Linked DNA regions of Homo sapiens: region 1 is linked to region 2. The links come from fine-mapping of genetic effects on gene expression. A gene starts in region 2. The other region holds a variant in brackets. All regions are shown on one strand. Distances are from middle to middle.

Region 1 (8,946 bases), 130 kb after region 2:
TTTTTTTTTTTTTTGAGACGGAGTCTCGCTCTGTTGGCCCAGGCTGGAGTGCAGTGGCACGATCTCGGCTCACTGCAAGCTCTGCCTCCCAGGTTCACACCATTCTCCTGCCACAGCCTCCCACGTAGCTGAGACTACAGGCACCCACCACCACGCCCGGCTAATTGTTTTTTTATATTTTTAGTAGAGACAGGATTTCACCGTCTTAGCCAGGATGGTCTCAATCTCCTGATCTCATGATCTGCCCACCTCAGCCTCCCAAAGTGCTGGGATTACAGGCCTGAGCCACCGTGCCGGGCCTATATGCAGTTAATTTAAAACAACGGAGACCTCAGGCAATCCAAAAATGAAAGTATGTATACAAAGAGAGCTCATACTATATGTAGAGTATGATCAATATATTTATCACATATGTGTGTGTGTGTCTTTGCTTTAAAAATAACAATCCAAATTCACCAAAAGAATAGTCATTTTTTAAAAGCCTGAATACACTAAGCAGACAGCCCCAGTTTCCCCTTCCACCACACACGTGTCAACTATAAATCTTTCTGTCTGTATGGATTTCTGTACTGTGGATATTTCATATAAATGGAATCATACAATAAAAAAAGAATAGTTATTTTAGCTGGGCACAGAGGCTCACCCCTGTAATCCCAGCGGCTCACCCCTGTAATGCCAGCACTTTGGGAGGCCGAGGCAGGCAGATCACCTGAGGTCAGGAGTTCGAGACCAGCCTGGCCAACATGGCAAATCCCTGTCTCTAGTAAAAATACAAAAAATTAAGCTGGGCATGGTGGTGGGCGCTTATAATCCCAGCTACTCGGGAGGCTGAGGCAGGAGAATTGCTTGAACCCAGAGGTGGAGGTTGCAGTGAGCAGAAATCACGCCATTGCACTCAAGGCTGGGCAACAGAGCGAGACTCTGTCTCAAAAATAAAATAAAAATAAAAAAAGAATAGTCATTTTAAATGGCTTCTTCATAGGCCATGAGAACTCAAGCCTTTAAGATTTACTTTTTACTGTGATTAAGTAAAGACACAAATTTCTTTTTAAAATCTTGAGGATTTATCAGATGACTTCATAAACTATGGGATTTTTTTTATTAGCAATTTATAAACTTCAGGTTAAGGTTCTTAACCTGTGAATCATGATTCACCATGACTGAATCTTTTTTGTAGGATTATTAGCCAAAATGATGGAAAGGAAAGGCAAGTCCTGGTTAAGGAGGGTCATATATGATAGTTTTTTTATATATAAATAATTTAACTCTTCTTTAGTTTTGACTTCAAGCAAAGTAATCTTTCAGATATATTGTTCATTGTGTAGTTACCACAAAAAAAAGCATTATCAATGAGTTTCAAAGGTGATATATTAGTATGATCCTAGTCTAAGATCAGCTTACTAGTACTACTATCATTGTTCAACATACTATATCATTGTTCTGCCCAAAACACAGAACAATACGAAAACGATAAATTTCTTTTTTCTTTTTCTTTTCCTTTTCTGTTGTTTTTTTGTTGTTGTTGTTTGTTTTTTTTTTTTTTTTGGAGACAGAATCTCACTCTGTTGCCTAGGCTGGAGTGCAGTGGCGTGATCTCTGATCACTGCAACCTCCACCTCCCGGGTTAAAGCATTTCTCCTGCCTCAGCCTCCCAAGTAACTGGGATTACAGGCGCCCACCACCATGCCCAGTTAATTTTTTTTTTCTGTATTTTTAATAGAGACAGGGTTTCACCAGGTTGCCCAGGCTGGTCCTGAACTCCTGAGCTCAGGCAGTCGCCCACCTCGGCCTCCCAGAGCGCTAGGAATACAGGCATGAGCCACCACACTCAACTGGAAAAGACCAATTTCTTTATGGTTAGGGTCAGGCACTTTTGAAGAGTTTTCTCTCCAGAGTCTTAAGATCTATTTACTCCTTAAAAATAAGGGAGGATTACAACAACTTTTCCACTTTCTAAGGCTCAAGCTAATTAGATATTTGACCATATTACTTGTACTTCATTTGTCTTTCAGATTGTCTAGCAAATGTTTTGTTTGATTAATACTTTTAAGGCAATGTAATTCTACCATGTCTTTGGGACCTCCCAAAATTCCCATATCCTTTATTGTCATTTATAATATTTGAATACTAAGACTCACTAAAATAACATTATGGGTCTAGGTAAGTCTTAAGAGTCCTTTTAATGGAAAATTGATAATTCTTAATTATTTTTATAAATATTAGGAAAAAATTTAATGATGTAATTTTGGTTACAATACAAGCATTCAGTTTACTTTTTTTTTTTTTAATTTTATTTTACTCTACATTCCGGGATACATGTGCAGAATGTGCAGGTTTGTTACATAGGTAAACATGTGCCATGGTGGTTTGCTGCACCTACCAACCTGTCACCTAGGTATTAAGCCCCTCATGCATTAGCTATTTGTCCTAATGCTCTTTCCTCCCCTCACCGCCCCCGCAACAGGCCATGATGTGTGTTGGTCCCCTCCCTGTGTCCATGTGTTCTCATTGTTCAGCTCCCACTTACGAGTAAGAACATGCAGTGTTTGGTTTTCTGTTCCTGCATTAGTTTGCTGAGGATGATGGCTTCCAGCTTGATCCATGTCCCTGCAAAGGACATGATCTCATTCCTTTTAATGGCTGCATAGTATTCCATGGTGTATATGTACATTTTCTTTATCCAGTCTATCATTGATGGGCATTTTGGTTGGTTCTATGTTTTTGCTATTGTGAATAGTGCTGCAGTAAACATACATTTGCATGTGTCTTTATAATAGAATGATTTATATTCCTTTGGGTATATACCCAGTAATGGAATTGCTGAGTCAAATGGTATTTCTAGTTCTAGATCCTTGAGGAAGCTCCACACTGTCTTCCACAATGGTTGAACTAATTTACATTCCCACCAACAGTGTAAAAGTGTTCCTATTTCTCCACATCCTTGCCAACATGTGTTGTTTCTTGACTTTTTAATAATCGCCATTCTGACCGGCATGAGATGGTATCTCTTTGTGGTTTTGATTTGCATTTCTCTAATGATCAGTGAAGTTGAGATTTTTTTCATATTTTTGTTGGTTGCATAAATACCTTCTTTTGAGAAGTGTCTGTTTATGTCCTTTGCCCACTTTTTGATGGGGTTGTTTGTTTTTATCTGGTAAATTTAAGTCCCATGTAAATTCTGGATCTTAGACCTTTGTCCATAGGTAAATTGCAAAAATTTTCTCTCATTCTATAGGTTGGTTGTCTGTTCGCTCTGATGATAGTTTCTTTTGCTGTGCAGCTCTTTAGTTTAACTAGATCCCAGTTGTCAGTTTTAGCTTTTGTTGGAATTGCTTGTGGCGATTTCTTCATAAAATCTTCTCCCATGCCTATGTCCTGAATGGTATTGCCTAGATTTTCTTCTAGGATTTTTATGGTTTTGGGTTTTACATTTAAGTCTTTAATCCATCTTGAGTAAATTTGTGTATAAGGTGTAAGAAAGGGGTCCAGTTTCAGTTTTCTGCATATGGCTAGCGAGTTTTCCCAGTACGATTTCTTAAATAGGTTTGTAGTTCTTTTTTTTTTTTTTTTTTTTT[TTG/G]ATTTGTACTCTGATATTTTTTATTCTGTTCCAAATAAATTCTGGTCAGGATGCACTAAATTTATTTTTACAATTTACTAATGAAGCATTACTTTAATTTTGAAAAATACCGTACTAGTGCATAGCCAGTCTATGTTACAGTTACCTGTTTGAAGAGAGCTCTACCATCTTAGGCAAGTTATTTAATTTCTGAGTCCTCAGTTTTCTCATCTGCCAAATGAAAAGGCTGAACCAGGTTAGTGATTCTTTTTTTTTTTTTTTTTCTGGGGCAAAGTGTCCCTCTATTGCCCAGCCTGGAGTGCAGTGGCGAAATCTCAGCTCACTGCAACCTCCGCCTCCTGGGTTCAAGTGATTCTCCTGCCTCAGCCTCCCGAGTAGCTGGGACTATAGGCACACACCACCACGCCCGGCTAGTTTTTGTATTTTTAGTAGAGACAGGGTTTCACAATATTGGCCAGGCTGGTCTCGACCTCCTGACCTCGTGATCCACCCGCCTCGGCCTCCCAAAGTGCTGGGACTACAGGGATGAGCCACTGCACCTGGCATTAGTGATTCTTAATCCTGGTTGCACATGAGAAATACCTGGAGAACTTTTAGATACACTTGTCTGGATCCAGGTTTTTGCCCTCAGAATTTCTGATTCTGATTCTGATTTAATGGTTTTAGGGTGGGGCCTATGCCCTGGTATTGTTTTTTTGGTTTTTTTTTTTTTTTTTTTGGTTTATTTATTTTTTTATTGATCATTCTTGGGTGTTTCTCGCAGAGGGGGATTTGGCAGGGTCACAGGACAATAGTGGAGGGAAGGTCAGCAGATAAACAAGTGAACAAAGGTCTCTGGTTTTCCTAGGCAGAGGACCCTGCGGCCTTCCTCAGTGTTTGTGTCCCTGGGTACTTGAGATTAGGGAGTGGTGATGACTCTTAACGAGCATGCTGCCTTCAAGCGTCTGTTTAACAAAGCACATCTTGCACCGCCCTTAATCCATTTAACCCTGAGTGGACACAGCACATGTTTCAGAGAGCACCGGGTTGGGGGTAAGGTCACAGATCAACAGGATCCCAAGGAAGAAGAATTTTTCTTAGTACAGAACAAAATGAAAAGTCTCCCATGTCTACCTCTTTCTACACAGACACGGCAACCATCCGATTTCTCAATCTTTTCCCCACCTTTCCCCCCTTTCTATTCCACAAAACCGCCATTGTCATCCTGGCCCGTTCTCAATGAGCTGTTGGGTAAACCTCCCAGACGGGGTGGTGGCCGGGCAGAGGGGCTCCTCACTTCCCAGTAGGGGCGGCCGGGCAGAGGCGCCCCTCACCTCCCGGACAGGGTGGCTGGCCGGGTGGGGGGCTGACCCCCCCACCTCCCTCCCAGACGGGGTGGCTGGCCGGGCGGGGGGCTGACCCCCCCCACCTCCCTCCCGGACGGGGCAGCTGGCCGGGCAGAGGGGCTCCTCACTTCCCAGTAGGGGCGGCAGGGCAGAGGCTCCCCTCACCTCCCGGACGGGGCAGCTGGCCGGGCAGAGGGGCTCCTCACTTCCCAGTAGGGGCGGCAGGGCAGAGGCGCCCCTCACCTCCCGGACAGGGTGGCTGGCCGGGTGGGGGGCTGACCCCCCCACCTCCCTCCCAGACGGGGTGGCTGGCCGGGCGGGGGGCTGACCCCCCCCACCTCCCTCCCGGACGGGGCGGCTGGCCGGGCAGAGGGGCTCCTCACTTCCCAGTAGGGGCGGCCGGGCAGAGGCGCCCCTCACCTCCCGGACAGGGTGGCTGGCCGGGTGGGGGGCTGACCCCCCCACCTCCCTCCCAGACGGGGTGGCTGGCCGGGCGGGGGGCTGACCCCCCCCACCTCCCTCCCGGACGGGGCAGCTGGCCGGGCAGAGGGGCTCCTCACTTCCCAGTAGGGGCGGCAGGGCAGAGGCTCCCCTCGCCTCCCGGATGGGGCGGCTGGCCGGGCGGGGGGCTGACCCCCCCTCCCCCGGACGGGGCGGCTGGCCGGGCGGGGGGCTGACCCCCCCCACCTCCCTCCCGGACGAGGCGGCTGGCCAGGCGGGGGGCTGACCCCCCCCCCACCTCCCTCCCGGACGGGGCGGCTGGCCAGGCGGGGGGCTGACCCCCCCCCACCTCCCTCCCGGACGGGGCGGCTGGCCGGGCAGAGGGGCTCCTCACTTCCCAGTAGGGGCGGCCAGGCAGAGGCTCCCCTCACCTCCTGGACGGGGCGGCTGGCCAGGCGGGGGGCTGACCCCCCCACCTCCCTCCCGGACTGGGCGGCTGGCCGGGCGGGGGGCTGACCCCCCCACCTCCCTCCCAGACGGGGCGGCTGGCTGGGCAGAGGGGCTCCTCATTTTCCAGTAGGGGCGGCCGGGCAGAGGCGCCCCTCGCCTCCCGGACGGGGCGGCTGGCCGGGCAGGGGGCTGATCCCCCCACCTCCCTCCCGGATGGGGCGGCTGGCCAGGCGAGGGTCTGACCCCCCCATCTCCCTCCCGGACGGGGTGGCTGCCGGGCGGAGACACTCCTCACTTCCCAGACGGGGTGGCTGCCGGGCGGAGGGGCTCCTCACTTCTCAGACAGGGCGGCTGCTGGGCGGAGGGGCTCCTCACTTCTCAGACAGGGCGGTTGCCAGGCAGAGGGTCTCCTCACTTCTCAGACGGGGCGGCCGGGCAGAGACGCTCCTCACATCCCGGACGGGGCGACAGGGCAGAGGCGCTCCCCGCATCTCAGACGATGGGCGGCCGGACAGAGACGCTCCTCACTTCCTAGATGGGATGGCGGCAGGGAAGAGGCGCTCCTCACTTCCTAGATGGGATGGCGGCTGGGCAGAGACGCTCCTCACTTTCCAGACTGGGCAGCCAGGCAGAGGGGCTCCTCACATCCCAGACGATGGGCGGCCAGGCAGAGACGCTCCTCACCTCCCAGACCGGGTGGCGGCCAGGCAGAGGCTGCAATCTCGGCACTTTGGGAGGCCAAGGCAGGCTGCTGGGAGGTGGATGTTGTAGCGAGCCGAGATCACGCCACTGCACTCCAGCCTGGGCACCAATGAGCACTGAGTGAAGGAGACTCCGTCTGCAATCCCGGCACCTCGGGAGGCCGAGGCTGGCGGATCACTCGCGGTTAGGAGCTGGAGACCAGCCTGGCCAACACAGCGAAACCCCGTCTCCACCCAAAAAATACGAAAACCAGTCAGGCGTGGCGGCGCGCGCCTGCAATCGCAGGCACTCGGCAGGCTGAGGCAGGAGAATCAGGCAGGGAGGTTGCAGTGAGCCGAGATGGCAGCAGTACAGTCCAGCTTCGGCTCGGCATCAGAGGGAGACCGTGGAAAGAGGGAGAGGGAGAGGCAGAGGGAGTGGGAGAGGGAGAGGGAGAGGGAGAAGGTTTGTAGTTCTTGAAGAGGTCCTTCACTTCCCTTGTTAGCTGTATTGCTAGGTATTTTATTCTCTGTAGCAGTTGTGATTGGGAGTTCATTCATGATTTGGCTCTCTGCTTGTCTATTGATGTATAGGAATGCTTGTGATTTTTGCATATAGATTTTGTATTCTGAGACTTTGCTGAAGTTGCTTATCAGTTTAAAGAGTTTTTGGGCTGAGACAATAGGGTTTTCTAAATATAGGATCATGTTGTCTACAGACAGAGACAGTTTGACTTTGTCTCTTCCTATTTAAATATCCTTTCTTTCTTTCTCTTGCCTGATTGCCCTGGCCAGAACTTCCAGTACTATGTTGAATAGGAGTGGTAAGAGTACATTCTTGTCTTGTGCCGGTTTTCAAAAGGAATGCTTCCAGCTTTTGCCCATTCAGTATGATATTGGCTGTGTTTGTCATAAATAACTCTTATTATTTTGAGATATGTTCCATCAATACCTAGTTTATTGAGAGTTTCTAACATAAAGGGATATTGCATTTTTTCGAAGGCCTTTTCTGCATTTATTGAGAGAATCATGTGGTTTTTGTCATTGGTTCTGTTTATGTGATGGATGACATTTATTGATTTACATATGTTGAACCAACCTTGCTTCCCAGGGATGAAGCTGACTTGATGGTGGTGGATAAGCTTTTTGATATGCTGCTGGATTCAGTTTGCCAGTATTTTATTGAGGATTTTTGCATTGATGTTCGTCAGGGATACTGGCCTGAAGTTTTTTGTTGTGTCTCTGCCAGGATTTGGTATCAGGATGATGCTGGCCTCATAAAATGAGTTAGGGAGGAGTCCTTCCTTTTCAATTATTTGGGATAGTTTCAGAAGGAATGGTACCAGCTCCTCTTTGTACCTCTGGTAGAATTTGGCTTTGAGTCCATCTGGTCCTGGGCTTTTTTTGGTTGGTAGGCTATTTATTACTGCCTCAATTTCAGAACGTGTTATTGGTCTATTCAAAAATTCAACTTCTTCCTGGTTTAGTCTTGGGAGGGTGTATGTGTCCAGGAATTTTTCCATTTCTTCTAGATTTTCTAGTTTATTTGCGTAGAGGTGTTTATAGTATTCTCTGATGGTAGTTGTATTTCTGTGGGATCAGTGGCGATATCCCCTGTATCATTTTTTATTGGTTTATTATCATTTTTTATTGTTTTATCTGTGGGATCAGTGGCGATATCGCCTGCATCATTTTTTATTGCTATTTGATTCTTCTTTATTCATTCAGTATGCTTATAGTTATCAATTAGCAATAAAAATACCTCATCTGTTAAATAAAGGGATTAGTGCACCTCTCTGTGCAAGTTCCTCATCTATAAAATATGTTTAATAAAACTACCTGTCTTAAGGTTGTTGAGAGGATTAAATGATTTAACACAAAGAAAGCACTCAAAAAATGTCAGGTATGGTTAGGTATCCCATGACTATATTTTACCACAAGTCTTTTGTGATTCATTGTTTATATTTTTGTACCATTAAACAATGTTTACCTTTAACTTGTACAATTAAATTTGTGACATGAATGAATATTAAAGACTGAATTGTTACCATGGATTTTGAGTGATGTGTTCATAGTCATATTGAATATTAGGCTTAATTTCAGGCTTAAAAATGTACTTTTAAACAAGGAGCAAGAGAAAAAAAAAAACAATTCTTTCTTCTTTTTTTTTTTTTTTTTTTTTTTTTTGAGACGGAGTCTTGCTCTACTGCCCAGGCTGGAGTGCAGTGGCGCGATCTCGGCCCACTGCAAGCTCCGCCTCCTGGGTTCACGCCATTCTCCTGCCTCAGCCTCCCGAGTAACTGGGACTACAGGCGCCTGCCACCACGCCCAGCTAATTTTTTGTATTTTTAGTAGAGGCAGGGTTTCACCGTGTTAGCCAGGATGGTCTCGATCTCCTGACCTTGTGATCTGCCTGCCTCGGCCTCCCAAAGTGATGGGATTACGGGTGTGAAATTATTTCATTTTTAAAATG
Region 2 (8,946 bases):
TTCACTCCCTCCCACATCCTCTTCTCTCTAATGCTATTAAAGACTGAAAGAAAGCTCAATCACATTACAGCATTGAAACTTATATATATATAAGCCCTCCTAGGACTACTTGCACTTTGAAAGACAACAGCTTAGCTGAAAGAAATTATCCATCACTTTCTGCTATCAAGGAAGAATTGGGAGAGGTGAAAAGCCTTCTTTCCTTGTTCTCTTAAATAACATGTAGGTCATTAAACTCTACTTTCAGCTTCTAGAGGAGAAAGCTTGCAATGGAAAAAGACAGAGGAAGTAATGATCAGGGGAAAAGAGGATGAGAGGAGTATTTTATTTTTATATTCAAGTTGGGAAAGAAGGAGAACAGGGTAGAACTTTACCTTTTCCATATCTGGTAAACCACCATACTTTGTGGAAGTGAAATGTATACTTTCAGCACTTAATCAGTATGTACCAATAATGAAACCGACTTTCAGGCCTTCCTTTGATAGAACGATCCTAACTATAATGCAAAGTAACATTTTGTAAAGTGGGTTTTTGTCTCTCTCTCCTTCTTTTCCCTCGCCTATACTACTTTAGGATCTGATCACAGAGTCAACACCGTGCTATGCATTATTCCTTCAGCAAACAGTACCCTTTCATGGCTTCACACCAGTGCTCATGTTACTCCCTTTATCTGAAATCATCTTCCCTCTGTTGCTCTGCCTACTCAACTCCTATTCATCCAACAAGACCCAATTAAAATGCCAGCCATGATGCCTTCTCCAGTTCTTCTACCCTGAGCAAGACCAATCCCTCCCTCCATTATGACTCCACAACACTAGTGGATATGTTTATAACTCATCATCTTATATATGTTAATATGTTGCTCTACTTCACAAAAATGTAAACTACTTCAAGTTGGGGCCAGGTCTTATTTATTCATATTTTCCGTGCCCAATACTGCTATATATCAGGCATGATAAATGTATATACTACAGTCTGGACAGTATAAAATGTTTACAGTTTCATAAAGGAGACAAGGTTTACAGACACAAGAGAGCAAGACAATATAATGGATTGGGCTAGGAAAATGAGGGTTAGTTAACTACTAAATTCCACAAATATTTATTAAATAGTCAGGAGTCAGGAATTATGTCCTGGGACTACTAGGATAAATAAAATAGTCATTTCCTTTGAGGTGCTGACAATCCATCTTGTAGATACTCTCTAAATGTGGACAACACTTCCCTGGTTTACCTATAACTTTTCATGTTTTCCTTATAGCAACCCTCTGATGTACATCATTATTTTCATTTTTATAGAGATCGAAACAGAGGGTTTGAATTCCCAGGTCTTCTGACTCCAAGGCCAGGTTTTTCTAACCCACTACATCAGTGTTCCTCAAAATTTTCCTCTGGTGTACACTTTCCCAGTAGAGAATAAACTTAGGCTCCTCAGGGTTGGGTAATACTTGTGTGTTATCTTAAAAAGTCATGCTTACTACAATGTCTTACCTTATTTACCAGAGAGTCAAAATGATGCTCAGAGAAAATGAGCCACATTGATTCTGGGTCCTTGAGGGTCCTCAGTACAGGGTTGCACAATCAAAGGAACCCACATAATATGAGAAGCACATGGCTACACTCCTGCCTTTATTCAGGGTCCCTGGGTTTGGCTTGAGTCCACACTCAAAATTTTGGGTAACTTCATCAGATTTCTTAATGTCATGATTTTATTCACAGTCTTCTCTGAAGACTGGAACAAAACACCCACTGTACTCCCAGATGTTAAGTGAGTAGTGAGGGCTGCCCCTTTCCTCCCTGAAAGGGTATCTCACTCTGGCAATAAGGTCTCCTCAGTCTGATACTCTCTGCCACCCCTCCCATTGCTGGTCTCCTTCAACTCCCTGTAGGTCCTGGAAGGCCGGAAAAGGTTTACCACCACACTCCGGTCAGCACCGCCGCTAGAGGGCAGCCCGCGGCTGCAGCTTCGTGAGCCCTCTAGTGGCTGCTGGGGTGACCTGGCTCTTTTATGGAACCCATTAAAAACTCTCAGAAGTTGCACTTGGGAAGCCAGCCTGTGTGACACCCGGTAGCGAACTTTTTATAAAACGTCTTGGTTCTCGGCTTCCTTTTCTTAAGGCCTTTGGCAGACCTTAGATACGTTACCCCCTCGATGACTCTCCCACTTCCTAAGGATCTCCCCCTCCCAGGGTGTTGCAACTTGGAGCCATCATTCTCTCTTGGCAAGGCAAAAAATTAGAACCTTGGGGAACTTGGCAACTTTCCTCAACGTGATATAGGGCATACACACACACACGTATATATATACCTACATTCAAGATTTTTCAGCGTAATTCCAGTTTCAGCATAGCTTGCAGGCTCTGGAATTAAACTTCCAGGACTCAAATTTTGGCTCCTGCATTTACTAATTGGGTAATTTTAAGAATGTTAATTAACCTAAGCTTCCATTTCATCTGTAACAGAGGGAGACTAATAATACCTACATTATACACTCTTGGGGAGGAATAACTATGATAATGTATGGAAAGTGCTAGTCTGGCACACAAAGTGTTCAACAAACATTAGCTATTTTTATCCTTCAAAGCTTCTGTCTAGTGCACACCATGTCTATCAATTAGGTCCACAAAAATACTGTCTTTACACACCCACATGAAGATATGTATGCAAAATGAATGTCGTAAACCACCTATAGTTTCCTAAAGTGGCTAAGCTAATAGAGACCTTAGAGTATGGAAAAGGGGGCTCATTTGTGTGATGCAACTCGTGCAATGGGTAGTTGGAGCACAGCGTAATCCAAGAGGCCCCGGGGGCGGGGGGGCGGCTTATTTTGCACACAGGTGTTCTTCCTCCCTGCACCCCCACCCTCAACCCTCACCACGTGCAAGCATTCAGTGTGAGTCTGGGCCTTAAGTCTGTGGGCCAGGAGAGAGGGCACAGTGGACAAAAGCAAGAGGGTTTCAGGCCAAGGCAGGGAACTGAGAACTCAAAGGCCAGGCAACCCAAGCCAATCAGATTCACCATCCACTAGGAGTCTAAAAGGTGGCAGAGCCCCACAGCCCAAAGTCCACACACAGCAGGAAAGTGGCCAGAGGATCTAACAGGTAGAAACCTGATAGACACTCTATCAGAAAAGTTAAAGCTGAAGGGCTCATAACACCCACGGGCCCAAAGAAAGGTCAGTGTGAGCTGAACAGCTGTTCCATTTGGTGCCAGAGGCCTTGGCTGTTGTATTCTACATCCACGCAGCCTCCCTGATCAGCCCCACCTAGAAAAGCCAATTCTTCTGCTCTTAAAGGAGACTGACTTATTTGTGGCAAAGCTATCATTTAGGTATGAATGGGAAGGGGGGGAATGGTGCGGAGTCTGCGGGGGGAGGGCGGGTGTTCAACGGGCTCCAAAGGAAGGAGCTCGTGGCTGACGCCTGAGCCTCCATGTTGTGAGTACTACATGCGTTTCTTTCAGAGGCAGGCAGTGGCCTTGGCTGCAGGGACCCTGACAAGCCGCGACTTGAGCTATGCTTTAGAGCCTGGGTGGAATTGGGAGCGGTATAAAGGAGGGAGGGCATTCCTGGAAAGGGGGTGGGGTGGGGTGGGGAGGTGGAGGGGAACAGCATGAGCAAAGGCACGAAGGAAGAATGAATCTGCTGCGCGTTGAGGATGGCATGGAGACTTCCCTGATTGGAGCCGGGAGTTCTTGCAGGGGGATGGAGGCCGCTATGATTGGATAGTTAAAGTGGGGCCAGATTTGGAGGGCTTTGAATGCCCGACCGAGGAGCACTCAACCCAGCTCCTGACTCGCGATTTCCGTTCAAGACCGAATTACCTAAAGGGTGGTTAATTCCAACGGGTGTTCTTCTTTGGGGGCTTCTGAAAAGTCAGTTTATCGTCTTACCTGCTTCAGTTCTCTTCATTTACTCAGGGAGGAAGTAATCCTCACATGCATGTGCAGGGGAAGGGGGATAATGTTGATTTCTCTTTACTTGCTTTGAAGATGCCTCCCCCGCCCAAATCCCATTTCCACGCCAAATATTATTAAATTTGGTTTCTCCTCCTCCTCCTCACGCAAGTTCTCTTTCTCTCGCCAGCACCTCCCCCACGTTTTCCTGCTCTCCACCAGCCGGGCCGGACTCCTCCCGGCCCCCAGCGGCGCGCTTCCCTGGCCCGCTGGCCCGCGCCGCCCTCCGCGCCGTGCGCCCCCATCCCGGCCCGTCGCGCCCGCGGCCCGCACACCCTGGTCCACGCCCCCCGGCGGAGCGGTAGGTGTTGTGCGGTCTGCGCCGGGCCGCAGTGCGGCTGCGCGCACTGGGCTGCCTCCGGGGCTGGCAGGGCAGCGGCGGCCGCGGCGGCGGCGGGGCCGGGAGCGAGCGGCGGCGGCGGCGGCGGCGTGGGGAGTGGCGTGGAGCGGTGCCTGGGGCTGCAGCAGCACGGGGACCCGGCAGTAGAAAGCCCCGGGGACAAGGAAGGAAGGCTTGGCCGCCAAATCCCTGAGCAACCGTTCTTCTTGGATTTTGGGGGGAGCCTGCCCCCCCCACTTCGTCTTCAAACGCCCCCATCTCACCCCCCCACAGCCCCGGCCGCTGACGGGAGGAGGCGGCGGCGCCAGCGGGGGGCTGAGGGGCGCCGCCATGCCTCTCCCGCGGTGAAGCGCCCCGGCCGTGAGGAGCCGCTGGTCTCCCCGGTGATGTTCCCCAGGCGGCAGGCGAAAGCGACTCACTCGAGCCCTGGGGTAAAGGCCTAGCTTATCCAGCTTCCTTCCTCCTCCTCCTCCTCTTCCCCTCCCCCTCCCCCTCCTCCTCTCCCCCCTTCGTCCTCCCCTCCCGGTCTCTTCCCTCACCCTTCCCCGCGCCCCCATCTTTCCCTCCCTCCCTCCCACCCCTCTGCAGCGATGGCAGAGGAACAACAACAGCCGCCACCACAGCAGCCTGATGCCCATCAGCAGCTTCCCCCCAGCGCCCCCAACTCGGGGGTGGCCCTGCCAGCCCTTGTGCCCGGGCTGCCAGGGACAGAGGCCAGCGCGCTGCAACACAAGATCAAGAACTCCATCTGGTAAGAGGATCCTCCATCGCTCGCGTGAAAAAGCCCAGGCACATTTCTGCTGCAAAGTGGGTGGGGGGCGGCGGGCGGGGGGAGCGGAGGAGGAGGCTGATGCATTCATTGAATGTGGCTTTCCCCAGTCGGGTGCACATTTGTAGGATCTCTGGAGGTGTGCGGACTTTGCATCAATCAGCCCCTGTCTTCTTAGCTAAAAAATGCTTTTACCCCTTCCTCAATTGTGAGTGCAGATAAACAAGTTTTTTGGTTTTATTTTTTCACTCATTGTAACAGAAATATGGGTCGAAATTAAGTCATATTGCATGATGGTGGCATGAATTTGGAACTGGAGAATGTGAAATGTGTTTACTCCTTTTTGCAGCCATAGAAGGAGGAAGAAGTGTATTGTGAATTTTCACCAAACAGATACTGTGCGTAAGAATATTAATATGCAGCACAAAACCTAATGTGTCTCTTCCTTTCAGTTGGGTTAGCTGCTATTTCTGAATGTTTTTGCCTCCCTTATCCTAATATTAAATTTCTTTTTCAGGGAGTTTATTCTTTGCATTGATTGTGAAGAAAGTGCTTTTTTAGTATAAAATATTTTAAGATGGTAGTTTACAACAAAGTGGTTTTTTTTTAAATTAAAATATAGGGAATCAAATGTCTTGCCATTTGTATGTCTTTTTAAAAGAAACCATTGATGGAATATCTTTCGCTATTTTACTTTCTTGTATGAAAATTTCCAATATTTCAGCATTAAACTCCTAAAGTCTAGTGGGAATCTTTTAATAATTAAATACACTAAGTCCATCCACTGTTAGAGCCATTGCAATATTCTTTGAACATGAACTTGCATTGTTTTGTAGGATGCTTCATTAACTGCCTTTTTTAAGTGTAGCAATATTTTTTAAATGGAAAGTAATATTTGGAATTTGGTCTAAGATTGCTTTTAATAGAAGTTTAAAAAGAATTTTATATGGTATTTTAAAAAGCCTTGATTTTGAAAATGGAAATGAAATCTTTGCAGGGCCATCATTGAATATGAGTACTAAAATATCAAAACTCATTTTCTCATTTTGAAAACATATCGTAAAGCAACTGGCGTTGCATGAACAGTATTTGCACATTTTTAAAGTGACAATTTTTAAATACAAGATTTAGGTTAGTTATATAGTAATTTTCATTATTTTCTTGGCATGCATCCATGCCGTCATGATGCTGATATGAAGTAGGTCAGTGCAGGCTTTAATAGTTTCATCAACAGTAGTTGGCAGTTGAGTATCTTGCTTTCAGTTTTAATTTTAAAATGAAGTTTAAATATTTTAAAGGAGAATTTTTTTGGCTTTGACAATAGTCATGTTGTGGCAACTTGAATAGGTCTGATAGATATGATTGGGGTGTGTGTGTGTGTGTGTGACAGAAAGCAGGCTTTATTCTTCAATGGATACCCTCACCCCCTTTTTAAAGCTATAATTTAAAAGAAGAGATGGTGAATATCTTGCTTGCCATCAAGGTTTTCACAAAACCAGTGTGTATGTGTGTGTGTTTTTAACCTCTAGTAACGTGACGTAACTTTGTGTTTCTGAAATCATCATTAAATTGAATTAAGCACCTTGGTTTTACATTCAGATGTGGGAAATCCAAGTTAATGGACTAAAATCTTTTAAGAGAGACAAATTTTAAAAGTTGAATGAGTAATGTATATTTTAATTGATTATGAGAACAAGAGGGGAAAGGAATCTTCACTTTATAGTTTTAAAATAAGTGAGTTGTGGAGGCAACTGACTGAAATGTTTGAATAATGATGATAGTCGAGTGCACTTTTTGGCAAATAATGTGTAAATTTAATTTTTTTTTATATTGGCACATCCATTACAGCCTAACTGCTCTGACTTTAACATGAGAAAAACTTCTGAAGTAGAGTGCACTCCAGTTTTTGGTACTTGCTCTGAAAAAATAATGGGCAGCAAACACGTGAATCCCAAAATATGAAAATTTATATTTTTGTTTTAAAATTGTAATGATACACTTATTGGCATCTAATGATCAACTTTAGAAATCCTATTTGCAAAAATGATTTTTATATACTTAAAATTTCGGAATAAACAACATTTGTAGATAATAAACAAAATTAGTAAATATACTTAATAGTGTCATACCCCCTGCTCCACAAGAATGGATTTATATTATTCATCAAGTGACTATGTAAAATAAAGATATCAAAAGTGAAAACTCCTTTACTACCATATATTCCTAAGAAATAGTATATATGTATTAAATCATTTTTAATAGATGATTGCAGTTAGATATTTCACATTTTTGAGACAATAATATTATTTTACAAATTATTTTATCACCTGATAATATTCTGAGAGACTATCAGTTTTGTACTACTTCCTGAATCATCCTTTGGTGCCATTATTAATGAGAGTTTAAAATTACACTCAAAAGAAATGTGACATTTAAAAATTATCAAATGGGTTTTGCATTTGGTTTATCATAGTTTCTAAATTACTGGGCTTGCATATCACAAACAAGTCTGTACTTGTCCTCCTACTCTACAAATATAAATATAGTATGTGATGTAGGCCTTTGGACAATAAGTTATCAGTTCATAATTTACTCTGTTTATTAAACTGAAATATGGTTTGATAAAAGTATGTGCATTGAAATATCAGGCATTAAATGAGTCTGGAAAAAAAGCATTCAAAGTTGAGTGGAAAAGAGTTGGAAATATATTTTAAAGGTAATTATAGAAAATAAGGTTAGTACAAAATTGACAATGTTGTTATGTTTCTATAATATGGTTATGAATACCTTCAAGTTAACTCTAGGTTAACAAGCTTGCATGTTTCTTACCCTTACTCATTCTTACTCCATAGACAAAAGGTCCAAATCACTGACACTATTCACTAGAAAGGAGATTTCTTAGTAGGCATGTGCTTTAGTATTGAATATGCTGTAAGGTTATTTGTATTTTCTAAAAAGTAGAATTCCAAAATTAGCTTTTTGTTGTTAAAAAAAAAAAAAGAAAACTAGTAACCCATGTATTTTTACCTAAAACAAGGCCACAACCCAACCTAACTGCAAACTTCTTTTAGCTTAAATTGTACCCCTCTTTGGTTACTTCAAAAAAAAAAAAAAAAAAAAAAGAAATACCAAAGCAAGTTTTCCCTTCCTCTTATCTCTCAGTGTCTTCGTAGTTTAGTGAAAATTTTTTAGTGTAAGCAACAGTAAACACATTTACTAAGTCCTTTTATTTACCTTTTTAAGGCAGTTTTACTTGAAACCCTGATAGAATAAAATTGCTGTGGAAAAAATAGGATTGAGATGGTTTCTGCCTGTTTGTGAATTGAGATCATACCTACATGAGTGGGAGTGAATAACATATTTGCAGTGAGGCTGTAACATAGATACAGGTTGATCATCCCTAATCCAAAATCCCCCAGAATTCAAGATGCTCCAGAATCTGAAACACTCCAAAATCCCAAACGTTTTTAGTGCCACAAGTGAAAAATTCCACACCTGACTTCATTGTATCACACACAAAATTATTTAAAATATTGTATAGGCCAGGCGCGGTGGCTCACACCTGTAATCCCAGCACTCTGGGAGGCTGAGGCGGGCGGATCACCTGAGGTCAGGAGTTCAAGACCAGCCTGGCCATGGTGAAACCCCGTCTCTACTAAAAATACAAAAAATTAGCCGAGGGTGGTGGTGCCCACCTGTAATCCTGGCTACTCGGGAGGCTGAGGCAGGAGAATCGCTTGAACCCAGGAGGCGGAGGTTGCTGTGAGCCGAGATTGCACCATTGCACTCCAGTCTGGGCAACAAGAGCAAAACTCCGTTAAAAAAAAAATTGTATAAAAATTACCTTCAGGTTATGTGTATAAGGTGTATATGAAACATAAATG

Alleles and levels. Alleles are on the strand shown, and positions count from the first base shown. SD is a standard deviation of normalised expression in the study named.
As copies of G replace TTG in region 1, the expression in Th17 cells of the gene that starts at base 4,290 in region 2 goes down (large effect, 0.84 SD a copy in Schmiedel 2018).

The links.
Region 1: its variant is fine-mapped to the expression of RFX7 in Th17 cells (Schmiedel 2018, PIP 0.95).

The regions. Positions count from the first base shown.
Region 1 is chr15:56,107,011-56,115,956 of GRCh38, reverse strand. The region is part of intron 5 of RFX7 (regulatory factor X7); the gene reads left to right. Among named protein-coding and RNA genes, the nearest start is that of NEDD4, 120 kb to the right of the region's middle. The variant TTG/G (reference allele first, on the strand shown) is at 3,576.
Region 2 is chr15:56,239,223-56,248,168 of GRCh38, reverse strand. It overlaps RFX7 (regulatory factor X7), which reads left to right and starts at 4,290. Exons shown (of 10, transcript NM_022841.7): 1 at 4,290-4,724; 2 at 4,882-5,044. The coding sequence starts at 4,884. It overlaps LOC124903569 (laforin-like), which reads left to right and starts at 3,351. Exons shown (of 3, transcript XM_047433428.1): 1 at 3,351-3,435; 2 at 3,990-4,186; 3 at 4,287-4,818. The coding sequence starts at 3,351. The coding sequence ends at 4,736. It also overlaps a transcript of TEX9 not described here. RefSeq lists enhancers at 2,381-3,026, 3,265-3,314, 3,027-3,672, 3,673-4,318 and silencers at 3,565-3,614, 4,105-4,394, 4,545-4,604, 4,695-4,764.